Homo sapiens: one gene and its partner. The protein of the gene in region 2 interacts with the protein of the main gene of each other region in a pairwise test. Each region holds a gene or a part of one and is shown on either strand. Other genes may lie near its edges.

The links. The genes of interacting proteins can lie anywhere in the genome.
Region 1: the proteins of CNTNAP2 (region 2) and ZMIZ1 interact in a two-hybrid assay, tested with the Homo sapiens proteins (one study listed by BioGRID and IntAct).

Annotation. Positions count from the first base shown.
Region 1 is NC_000010.11:79,288,936-79,295,965, reverse strand, and holds part of ZMIZ1 (zinc finger MIZ domain-containing protein 1), read right to left. Parts: intron 6,192-7,030; coding exon 6,077-6,191; intron 5,008-6,076; coding exon 4,790-5,007; intron 3,809-4,789; coding exon 3,610-3,808; intron 2,604-3,609; coding exon of another isoform or gene 2,586-2,603; coding exon 2,313-2,585; intron 1-2,312. UniProt on the Homo sapiens protein: Acts as a transcriptional coactivator. Increases ligand-dependent transcriptional activity of AR and promotes AR sumoylation. The stimulation of AR activity is dependent upon sumoylation.
Region 2 is NC_000007.14:148,415,792-148,421,519, reverse strand, and holds the end of CNTNAP2 (contactin-associated protein-like 2 precursor), read right to left. Parts: 3' UTR 522-5,728; downstream 1-521. UniProt on the Homo sapiens protein: Required for gap junction formation. Required, with CNTNAP1, for radial and longitudinal organization of myelinated axons.

The sequences.
Region 1 (7,030 bases), on a different chromosome or scaffold from region 2:
GGGCCATCGACAACCTGCCACCTGTGCAGGAGGTGGGAGAGCCAGGTTGGTGAAGGAACAAGACAACTTCTCCCGGGACAGACAATTTAGAGAAGAGGAGAGAGCACCACCCTCCAGCCACCTTCCCTGTCTGGAAAATCAGGTGACCCTCACGGCCACATGACATCCTGTGAGTCAGTGGTTTCTTCTTCCCCATCTGAGTGTCTCTCTTGCCCAGAGGTCCTGTTGGTGGCTGTGCCCCAGTGCCTGGGAAAATACCCTTAATACTTGCTCAACAAACGAATGATGGACTTAGGGATAAATGTCAGAAAGTGTCAGTGTGGAAGAATCTACAACTCACGTTGTTGCAACATGGTGGCTGCTCTGGGTGACAGTGAGGCACCCACCACAGGAGGTATAGAAGACGTAGCTGGTGCCTACCTGCCCACCAAGCTAGAGAAGAGAGTCCTCTGTGGGACCAGATGACCCAACCCCTGTCCTAAGGCTCCAACAATTCAAATATTGTATGAACAAGCCATGGCAAGGGGAAGGAAGGCCAGTCTTCCAGACAGGATCAGGCCGCATAGGCTGTGACCACCCAGTGCTGTAGCTGGGTAGCAGCAGCACTCTATGAAAAGGATGATTAATTTAGTAAAAATATGGAGAGCCTTTGGTGTGCTCTCTTTAGGCAGGCAAGAGCCATAAGCATGGCACAGGTGCAGGTGCAGGGGTGACACCAATGACCAGGAATTCTGCTGAAGCCTCATCCGAGATTGCCTCCTTTGGCGTGGGCTAACAGATGCACCCCCAGCACAGCCAGTGGGACACTGGGATTTTGAGCACAGGGTGGCTGAGAAAAGGCCTAGAAACTGCATGGGGCCTGAGTGCCAGGAGAGGTGCCAATAGCTTGAGGCTCCCCCAAACTCAGGACCCAGGAGCCAATGGTCCTTCTCTGGCCCCTCCCTGAACTAGTGTCCACCAGGTGGAGGGTTGGGGCTTGATCCAGCTTCTTGGATGCATGAGGAAGCCCCTGACCCCCCCCCCTCTCTCTCCCCTCCTGAACTCAGAATACCTCCACTTGTTGCCAAGCCTCCCCGCCCATCCTAAGGTGGATACTGAGGGGAAATGTGCAGATCTTCAAGGAACTTAAGGTCTTTGGAATCTAAAGCCGCTGTGAACCCAAGGTGAAGGCCACAGAGCTGAGAGGAGCTAGGAGGAGAAAACTGCTCTGAGAGTGGGCATGCAAGCTGGGAGGGAGGCAGGCAGAGAGCTGGGCACACCCTGCTCAAAAAGGGGCTTGGTCGTGGGGAGCAACCAGGGCTTCACGAGGGGCATCTGCAGAGCCACGTCCCTACGTCTTCTGCAGGTAAACTAAATCCTTACCTGGGTACCCAGATGGGCCAGCTGCTGCCAGCATCATTTTCTGAGGATTTACTTGTGACACACCCTCCAGGAAGCCTGCCTTCTCTGACTCATATTGAGTTCTGTGCAGTCTGCTATGCTTCATTCCCTGGTGAGTCTCTGCTAAAAACTTTTCTTTCCTGCTAAAACCTCACTTCCCAGAGGGCAGGAGGTGTGGGTTTTACTTCCCCAAATCTTCCCCAACACCTTGGCTGAGCTGGCTGTGCAGCCCAAGAGGCAGTGCCACTTCCTATACAGTGACCAAGTGTGGATGGAAACAAGAGCTAAGAAACACGCTGTCTGCCTTCCAGTCACTTCCCTGACGGGTCAGTCCTTATAGACTGGAAACAGCTGCCGGCCTTCCAGTCACTTCCCCAACGGGTCAGTCCTTATAGATTGGAAACACGCTCTCTGCCTTCCAGTCACTTCCCCAACAGGTCAATCCTTACAGACTGGAAACACGCTGCCTGCCTTCCAGTCACTTCCCGGACGGGTCAGCCCTTATAGACTGGAAGCATTTTGTCTCAGCTCTCTTTCTTGGAGAGGAGTTGGGGAAGCTCTCATGTGGGCAGGAGGAACTAAACCCAGGTCACCCAGTTAGTGGCTGAGCCAAGACAAGAGTCACTACAGTAAGAGGAACTGCTGCTTGCTGAGTGGCGGCACATGCCAGCCCAGGGCCAAGCACTTCACGGACACCTCCTCAAGTCCCTCAAGCAGCCCTAGGAGGCAGGGTGACTGGCTCGAGGTCTTTCAGTTGGGAAACAGCAGAACCAGGTCTCAAACCCAGGAGCACCTGACCCCTAAGCCCCTGCCTCTTTGTCCAAGTGTGCTGGAGTCCAAGCCACACCCCTTCCAAAGCCGTACCCACGGCCCATGTCTTCAAGCCCAGGTGTCCCAGTTCCCACCTCCCAGGCTCCCACTGCTGCACTCACCTCTCCAGGGTATGGCCTCTTTATGTTCTGAATAGGAAGGGACTGGGGCCGGGGGCCCGGGTAGGTCTGCTGGGGCATCCGCTGCCCGTGTGTGCCAAAGGGGCTGATGCCGGGCGGCCGGGGCTGGTTCATGCCCATGGGAGGGCCGCTCATCCCCGAGGGCGTCATGCCAGCCGCCATGCTCGCGGGGTTCATGCTGCCCCCCATGGAGGCAGGCCCCCGCGGCCCGGGCTGGTTCATGAATTGGCTGTTATACGCCTGGGTGGGACCCATCTGGAAAGAGGAACAGACCTTCAACGGGAGAAGAAAAAAAAAAGAATAAAATGCCACATGCATTGAAAGTGCAGGGAGGGAAGGGTTGGGGAGGTGGAGGAGTGGGGAGGGGGCACTGTCCTGTGCGGCAGTGACTGGTGACCAACCAGGCCCCAGGGGAGCAGGATCCACCCAGGCTCACTGCTGCCCTCTGCAGCCGCACAGGAGAGATGCAGCTCAGGGGTGTTAGGGGATGGGGTGGGGTGGGGTGAGGTGGTCACTCCGATGCACAGGCAGCATTTCCAGGGAGGGAGGCAGGCAGAAAACCAGGAAAGTGTGCAGGGACAGGGAGGGGTATGGGAGGGTGGAGGTAGATGAGGGTGGAGGCAGGAGCCCGAGTGAGACTGCAGCCCCTTTCCTGGAAGCCCTGGCCCTGCCCTTGGTCCTGGGCCAGTGGAGGCACACCCTCCATCCCCAAAGTTGGCCTCAGCCCAGCTTCCACTTCTGCCCCTCTGCCCTGCAGTTCCCACCTCCTCACCTCCTGTTCTGCATTCCTATGGGGGCTCCCCTCTCCTCATCCCCTAACCCATCCTTCAGAAGGTCAGGGAGCAGCACTGGGGCCTGCGCAGACCCACAGATAGGGTGACTAGGAGGGCACTGGTCTCAGAGGCAATCCAGGAGACAGACCGGTCACAAGACTATTTTTAGACATTGAGCCCACTCCTTGGTGAGTTGGGGGCCCAGAGAGCCATGTAGAACCTTTTCCCCATATGCAGTTGTACATGAGCCACCAACACACAGAACAAACACCAGCACCCATACACCCCACCACACCCAAGCACACTGACACGCCCCATTCTAGACATGCGCCATTCTAAACACACAGACCTCCACATGCTTCCATGAAAGCCCAAATGCACCCTAATGCAGTCAGCTCTCCCAGCACACATGGCCCCATAAGCACTGACATCCCAACTCTGGTTTCCCAGGGCTGTCTGCCTGGCTGGCTGGGCAAGGCTGGACCAGGATTAGTGGGAACCCTTACCGGTCCATACTGGTTTATATCCTTGTTCTGTGTCTCCTGCAGGGCTGCCACAGTGGCCGTGGCTGTGGCTGTAGCTGTGGCTGCTGCTGCTGCCACTGCCGCTGCTGCAGCGGCTGCCGCGGGCTGAGTGAAGTCAGCAGGCGGCCTGGTGTGCGGAGGGATGCCCATGCCTGCGGGGGCGTTAGGACCCCCAGGGTAACTGCAGGGGGAGAAGGGTGGAAGAGTTAGGTACTGCCTGCATCTGAGGGGAACTGAGGGCAAGCTGTGGGCTGGAAGGGAGATGATGGAGCTGTACCCAGAACCTAGAGGGGACGGGGCCTCTTGGGATTGGCAGCCATTCATTTGTGCCACTTGGCAACGACCAGGCTGCTGTGCTCCTGGAGCCCTTGGGGGTGCCTGCACCCTCACTGCATGCTGTCGGGGCCCTGGTGAGCCCATCTTCTGAAGGACACTGAGTCTCAGAGAACCTGAGCAACTTGCCCAAGGCCCTGCAGCATTGATGGCGGAGCTGCGGCTGCAGCTGCAGGTGTTTCTGATCCCTGTGTTTAACCACCAGGTCATATAGCTGTGCCAACCCCAGGCCAGAAACCCAGCCAGGGCTGGTGAGGGCTGAGGCCAAGGTGGGGGTCTTAGGCAGGGCGGGGTGGAAAGAGGAGAATGGGCACCTCTGCTCGCCTCACACCACTCCCCAGAGCTCCATATCCTGGGAGTCCCTGCCCTTTTCTTCCCAGCCAAGGGACTCGCAGTCTCTGCATAGTTCTGCTTTCACCAATCAGCAAGGCAGAGCAGATATTCCCAGACTGCTTCACTGTCTTTGGGCAACTGGACCCCATCTATACCTGCTCTTCGACTTTCCCAATCCAGATTTTCTCAATATTTTCCTATTCATTAAAGACAAAATTTAGAGAAGGGTTGTTTTGAGGTTTTGAGGAGTAAGAATGTCACCTCTCTATTTCTACGAGTCTGACGACTGTCAGAACACAGGCCAACTGCTGCAGCGCCTTATCTGCAGGCCAGCCCTGGGAGCCAGGGATGACTGAGCCCCTTCAACTCATGTAACAACAGAGGATAACTTCTCAGGGCAGAAAGCGTGGAGCTGGGATTTAAGTGGGTCCCTCCCCACTGGAAGGAGGAAGAGGGGTGGCGTCCATGGCTTCTGCCACAGGTCAGCCCTGCTCACCTGGCCCCAAAGCCCCCGCTGCCGGGGTAGTTGGGCCGGCCATACATGCTCTGCTGGATGTAGGGCTGAGCGGGGCCAGCCTTGGCTGAGAACTGCTGCTGCTGCCCCGCAAACTGTGGGGAGTTGAGGCCTGGGTTGCTGGTGGTCATGCCCGACGCCATGGGGTTGCCGCCTGGATTCATGGGGTTGTTGGCATTGGCCATAGGGTTCCCAAGGACCTGTGGGCAGAGAAGTGGTTGTCACCTAAGGTGCTACCCGAGGCAGTGTGGAGAGGAAGAGGGATAAATGAAGAGGGGAAAGGGAGAAAGAACAAAGTGGAGGCAGGACAACAGGGAGGAGGAAAAAAATGGAGGGTGGATGAACTATTCTGAGTGTACCGGTGATAAGGAGCGGGCCTGGGCGGCAGGTGGCGTGGGGGATGAGAACGTCAGCCTTGTGATGGAACAAGCTGAGGGTATGACCAAGCCCCACAAAGCCAGTTCAAGCGGTCCCCAGGGGCTGCGCAGCCCAGTGAAGGGAGAAGAGGCTGCTCTTGTACCAGGTACCCGTGGGGAGAGCCCTGGCCATGAAGCCTACTGCCCCACAAACGAGCCTGGATGCCAGCGTCTTGTCACACAGGGGCCCCAAGGCCCCTGGCTGCTGCTCTGTGAGGGCCAAGAGGAACCCACCCTGCTAGCTCTGGAGGGCAGCAGGAGCAGGCGACAACCGGTCAGCCCAGTGGCTCCCTCCAGGGTGACAAGCAGCCCTGAGCCTTCCATGTAGCCACAGAAAAGGCTGGCAGAGGTCAGACAGGTGGGAGACTCCCTGACTGGGCAGAGGAGGAGTGGAAGAGAGAGGAAGGAATGAGAGGGAGGTGGGTCTGACTAGGGCAATGGGGAGTAGGGAGTTGTCAGAAGTCCAAGGCACAATATTTTGATGAAATCCAACTCAGGCCATACATCCAGGGTCAGAGACCTCAGACCTTGGAGCCCTGAAGCCAGTAACACAGAGGAAGTTCTCCTGTTTACCAGAGCAAATGGGCTAGGGAAGAACCCCTTGCTGTCTGTCAGATGAATGCCATTCCTCCAGAAAGGCCTTAGGATGGGGACAGTCCATAGAGGCTGCCCTCCTGAGGCGGGTGCAGAGCCTGCCAGGGGTGGAGACGTGTCCACAGCTGGGTGTGCCCTGGAAGCTGGTCTTTCCAGCAGGGCAAGGCCTGTGAGGGTGAAGAGGGCTGGTATGGCTCCAGGGGTCAAGGGACACTCCCGCCTAGAAAGAGCTGTGGCTGAGGGCAGTATAGGCTCTTACCTGGCTCTGGGATGTGTTGGTTACTCCCCAAACCGTGGTGACCACGGAAAGGGAGCCGGGAGGCTGGTTGGTGTTCTGCTGCCAAGGGACAGAGTCATAGGGGAACGACCCATCACTGCAGAGGGAGACAGAGGGAGATCTTCAGGGCCTGGCAGGCACAGACTCAAGACAGGCCATGCCCATCACCCCACCAAGTGACCGCAGCTCCCAGTCAGTCCAAGGTAACCCCCATCCGAGTCGGTACTGGACCCCCCAGGCCTGTCTCAGTGCCCAGTGCACAACAGTGTGCCCTGCATGGTGACAGGCTGTTCAGAAGTGGCCACCTTTCCCCCGATCACTGCAGAGAGCTACTTCCATGGCTGTGTGTCTCCCTGTATCCCCGAGTCCACAGGTCATGCAACTGATGAAGTGGTGTGACCTGAGGCCCAATCTGAGCTCCTCCTTCACCCGGGCTCTGACTCCACGTTGCCCTTTAGGAAGAGCCTGGGCTCCCCCAAACCACCTTACCCTTGGAACTGCTTGGTCCCTTCTCAGTACAGGCTGGAAGGGTCCGAGTCTGAGGGTGTCAGCCCTTCCCTCTACCTCCCAGCCCTTCACAGCAGCCTGGCTGCCTGGGCCATGGGAATGCAGGCTTTCTTCCGGCACCCTTCCTTCCCAGCCCCCAGCAATGTGGGTACAGGCCTACCTGCTGCACACCCTCTCCTGCCCCCACCCCGATCTCTCATGTACATTTTCCCCAAGCTAATCTCCCTCAAACACCTAAGATGCCTGGCACAATCAAAGACCTTTGGTGGCTTCCAGCATTTATAAGGCAGAGTCCAAACACACACTTAAGAATGACTTACTCCTCTGGCGGACCCCACCATTCCCTCACCCCGCTTTGGCTCTGTCCTCTCGTGGAGCTGCCCCTGCCCCTAAACACTGCCTCCTCTCTACCAACCCGGACCATATTTC
Region 2 (5,728 bases):
GCCTCTCAGCTTCCTTGGTTTGCAGGGGTGGTTTGCATAGAGCTGCTCGCTGCAGAACAACTAGCAAGTGAGAGTAATAACTTAGCTCTAAAAGCACACGGAGTGCATTTAGGAAGCTTCGCACCTCCGATGCATGCCGAGTCCTTGCTGTCTAGTTCCCTGGCTTGGATCCATGTGCCCACTATCCAGTGTTACTCCCTCATTCCAAATAAGGATCAGAATATATTCTGGAGATAACTGAACTCGAACCACATTTTATCAAGATGGGTGTAAACTAACCAAAGTCAATGTCTACTAAGCCACTTTAAGAAAAACTCCTCTTTTAACGGGGAGCTATTTGTGGTAGGAGGTTAACCATGGACGTACCCAAATCAGACCTTTTAGGAGTGACTATATCTCCACAACTTGTGGAAAGACGATATTCTCAGTAGGCTTATATTTCAGTGCTTGGAACTTAACTTTTGCTGAAGGTTGAAAATTGCTCTTAAGAGAGACAAGTGGTACAAAACACGAAGAATCGCTTTTAGGATAATTAAAACTACTTTGAATTTTTTATTTATCAATCTGGTTTCTAATATAATTTTAGTTAAATGAAAGACATTCACAAAGAATATTAGGCATACGTACATAATTTCCTTCTTTCATTCTAGTTTACATGCTGTTGCTTTTAGAGAGTGAAATTTTGTGTTATTTCACAGGGGATGGAATCCTGTTTGACTTTACAGAAAGAATATTTAGCCCAGCTTTTCACAGCACTAACCTCTGCAGTCACCACGCTCACTGAAAAAATTTAAAAAACCTGACAAAATAAAACTTAGTAAAATCTAGAACTGTTTCTTGGCCTACTTGAGAGGAACTTCCATATTTTCACAGCCATCTCCGAAAGCAGCAGTTGCTGTAAATTAACTGAGACTTGGAAATGGTGCAGACTGTCTTGGTAGAGCTGTTCTTATAGCACAATTTTATCTGGAAAATAAACTTGTAAATGCGTGCTGTATATTAATACATGTGTGCCCATATTTATTTTTATTATCTCCTGCCAGTCTTTGCTCAATGGGAGATGACAGACCAACTTCTCAACGTGATTTCCCCATTTCATTGAATGACATTTATATGCCACTTATGAAAAAAAATACTGCTGTGAAAGAAATGTACTTTAAAGTTTGCAGCACTACCATGCAGGGTACATGGAGAATAGGCATATAGCCACTAGGCTACATGAACACGTCACGTTTGTATTTTGTGTTGGCCTATGTATAAGCCAATCTAGCATGTTTGAGGGCATGTGTGAGAGTAGGTAAGGGAGCTGTAAGTTACATTCAGGTGGGAATTTAGGGCTTTCTGCACAAAAAATTCTAATTTCTCTGTCCTTTTGCTATGTTGCATCTCCCAGTGTTGACAGGTTAGTCTGCATGATTAATAACTGAGCAGCTGTAGAGCCATGCCAGTAAGTCTCCAATTCCTGAACGTGGCCACATTTGTCTTTTGATGTGACTTTCAACCACAAGCCACAAAGTAAGTCTTTCACTAGGCTCCGTTGACTTCAGTCTTTATATAAGGGTTTCAAGGTATTTTGCAGTCAAGAATCAATGGCACCTCGCAACTGTCTTATGAAGTAGGTAAAACAGCTCCATCTTAAATACGGGACAAAAGTTCGAGGACTTGACCAAGGTCACACAGGGAGGGTCCCACCAAGGCAGGGAGAGAGAAAGGGGATGCTGTCAGCTAATTCTCATGGTCCACTCTTAACCAAAACATCATTTAAAAAATGGGGCTGGCTCGGCACGGTGGCTCACACCTGTAATCCCAGCAATTTGCAAGGCCGAGGTGGACGGATCACTTGAGGTCAGGAGTTCGAGACCACCCTGGCCAACATGGTGAAACCTGGCTTCTACTAATAATACAAAAAAAAAAAAAAATTAGCTGGGTGTGATGGCGGGTGCCTGTAATCCCAGCTACTTGGGAGGCTGAGGCAGGAGAATCGCCTCAATGTGGGAGGAGGAGGAGGTTGCAGTGAGCCCGAGATTGCGCCAGTGCACTCCAGCCTGGGGGACAGAGCAAGACTCCGTCTCAAAACAAAACAAAAAACAACAAAAAAAAGCGGGGCGGGGGTAGGAGCCATTGGTTCTTAGCTGAAGTCAGCTGGGGACATTGTTACTGTTTGTTTCGCACTGGTTTAGGATCAGGTGGTTCTACTGGGACTAGCAATTTAGGACCTATCTTTGGCTGGCTTACTTGAATTCAATTTAATAATTGCTGCCCTTTTTTTGGGAAAATTGCTCAACAGGGTGGTGAAAAGAAAAAATGGGGGGTTTCAAATTCAGTGTTGTTTGGAGGCATGAGACATAAACGGGCCATTAAAACGTTTACTGCGTAAGAGCAGGGTATAATGTGGTGAGGAGAGGAAGAGAGAAAAAAGTAGGATAGAAAAGAACAGATTCCATCATAGAAGGAAAGAAAAGCTTCTTGACACAACCTGAACACTTGCATGTTCAAGTCCCACAGCTGTGTGCTTGTTCCTGAAGTGCTTCCAATGGCTTCGCCTGTGCCCAGCTCTCAGCCTGCATATGGTGGCCGCTCAGCAGATTTTCAAAAGTAACATTAAGACAGACTCTTTGGCTCATGCCAATGCTTTTTCTTGTGCCTCTGAATTCCTGCTCTTGTTAGTAAAGGATGCTTGTTTGTCAAATGCAGGGCAGTAGGACATTTTCTAGGAATGGCTCTCTAAATTCTTGTTTTCAGCTCTTTAATGAAAACTTTCATGTAACAAGTCTCTTTTTTTGAGCAGGTGGTTGAAAGCCACAAGGGGAAATACATTTTTAAATATTAAGAAGGGCCAGAAAATAATTTAACAACAAAATAGCTTTTTCAACCTCCTGGACCAGCTTTCTTGAGCTCTAGGGAATATGCTATTTTGAGAGCTTAGGATCTCACTAACCTTGCATTCATTCAAAGTCATCTCCTAGCTTTTTTCAAAACATCGACATTTGCTTCATACACAGAAGATGTTTCCTGCACAACTTTAAATCAGCCACCAACTTTCCCTGAAACTTTAAAACAGTCTATTTTTTGTCGTTGTTGTTGTCTATACATATTATTTAAAGAGGCTACTACCAGCATACTTGTGCTTGCTTGATAATGTATTGGAATGTAAGATGTCAAGATTTTGTGAGATGTGAATGACAAAGCAGGATTAGGCACTGAGAGCTTGGGCGGGAATGTCATGGTTATGGAGGCTGCACTGTGCTAGGCTATCCAAGGAGAGAGTTGGAAGAAAGACTTAATTCTTTTTCTTCACATAAACAGATTATTTACCATTTAAAATGTACTGAATATGGCCTTCATAAACAGATGTAGGGATTTTTGTTACACCCATAATCCCAAGGAGAGGTCAAGATTTCCAGCATTTATTTGGCACTTAGTTACTTAATACTTTATCCACCGTTTGGTTTCCTGTCTGATGGCCACATTGTAACCCTCTTGAAGGAAGACAGTGTCCTATATGTCTTAATTGATGGTGATATGGGAGAACCACTGATCCCTGCAGTCATTCCAGTGTCCTAGGTTTGAAATTTTGGTGAGAGGATTGGATCTCATTTTTCACCTTTTGTGGCAGGAAAAGGAGAGGGAGGAGAAAGGATGAGAACATTTTAGTAGCAGAAGCTGTTTTGGGTGGCTTTAATTCTCTACTCATTTTGGGAAAAAAGGGAAAGTGTTGAGACAATGCATAAAGAACAGAGCTATCATGGGAATTGCAAGAAATAATAAATTTCCATCTGGCATTATTTGGTAAGTGCAGAAGTAATACCTGTAAACCAGGTTTAAAAATCAGAAACACTTCTAAAACATCATGTTTAAAATTTGCTTTCAACAATACATAAAGTAACTCCTAATGGTAATCATCTTGGCTAAATAAAACAGCCTTTGCTTTCAATATGTCATTTGTAAATGTTACATTGTTCTGATATTTAGTGATATTAAGTATTTTTCCATTTTAAATGTATTTTATAGAAGAATGATTAAAACCTTTTAAAATTAAGGGTGTCCATGACAGTGCCTGAGCTCAACCAGCAATGGTAAAAGGGCATCAGGATTCCCTTTTGTTCTGTTACCTTGACTTGTATGGGAATTAACTGGTCCAATGTCTCCTTTGGAATGTGCTCTGTACTGGTGTAATGTGCCACTGGCAACTCTAGGTAATGTTTTCCATTACCCAAGAAACTGATGTGCTCCAATAAGTTAGGCACACTGAGAATCTTGAAAAAGAATGCATAATTCTAACAAACTAGAATTTCCATTTTATTCAGCCGGGCCATCAGAACAATAGCATCTATACCTTCGAAACCTCCTCTTAACCTCTCCCAGGCAAAGAAGGAAAAAGTGATCATATTGAATTCCTCAGAATGGTGGGATCTCAAGACTTTTTAGAAAGTGCTTATTAAGTATAAGAGGCTTGAAATATAATGATGATAAATGGTAGCCTTTCTGGAAATAATTTTTGTGTAATCTGTTTAAAAAGATTTTTTGGATGCATTGTCCCCATTTGTTTACAGGAAGTGTATTACTTTTAAATATAATCAATGAGGTATTTATTTGTTAAATAACTGGGTCAAGATTTCAGATTAAACTAAGAGGTGTGATTAACTACACTTCTCCATCCTCTGGGAAGCAACAGGTACCAGGTTTGTGATGAACCTGAGGTTCAAATGTGTCCGTCTTAGAAGAAAGATCCCTGAATCACAGCAGTGTGATTGGATGGAAAAACACGTGGAGTAGTTGATTTAAAATATGGCAGTGTTTTCCATATCATCCAGAGTAACAGCAATAATAACTTGACTTTATTGTGTTGTGTCCATTTACAGGACACTGTCTATTAGGATTGTGTCACAGGGGTGGAAAAACTACCAGAGATTTAAAGCAAAATAAGAAACGCAACCTAATTTATGCATTCACTAGAAATTATCCATATTTTTGCTATAACTAAACTATAAAAGAAAAAGAGCAAACAAATCATAACATCTGGCTCTAATTCCCCATTGAGGCGCTTATACATATATAAATCCAGTATGTTTCAGATAAAACAGGAAAAAATCTTTTGTAACAGCTGGTCACCATGGTATTGCAGCTGATAGTTACAGCTATTGGTCTAAGACTACATACGTGGAACAATATTAGCTTGTAGAATTCAATGAAAAATCAAACTACCTTCCCTGGTTCTTTAATGCCTCTCTCCAGTTGTGCTGATTGTGTCGTTACACACCAGGTGCCATGCACTCTCTTCCTTCAACTGCTGGTATCAGTCAGGAACCCCAGATGCCAGAGAGCTGGCATAGATTGAGCTCTGCTTAAAAACTGGCAAATAATAGGTTCTCTTTGCCCCTTTCTTTTCCGACTTATAGGACATCAAAGGAAATAGTATATAAACACGAACTAGTTTCTGTAACAGCCCATTAAGGTTGACTAGAAGCAAAAGGAAGAGAATGTTGGGGGCCATCTGTAGGTGCATTAGCTTTTCTCAAGAAAAAAAATACCCACGTTCTAAGGGCTCTTAAAAACGTAGAAAACTTGCCCTGTTACCACGGGTCTTTAGAACACCTCTAAACACACACAAAATAAGACAGATAGTACCTACAAATTTCAACCATTGCTTAAACTCTAAAAGCATTTTTTGTATTATTTTGTTTTGATACAGAAGGGAAAACTCAGCTATAAAGAAATATTAAAAAGG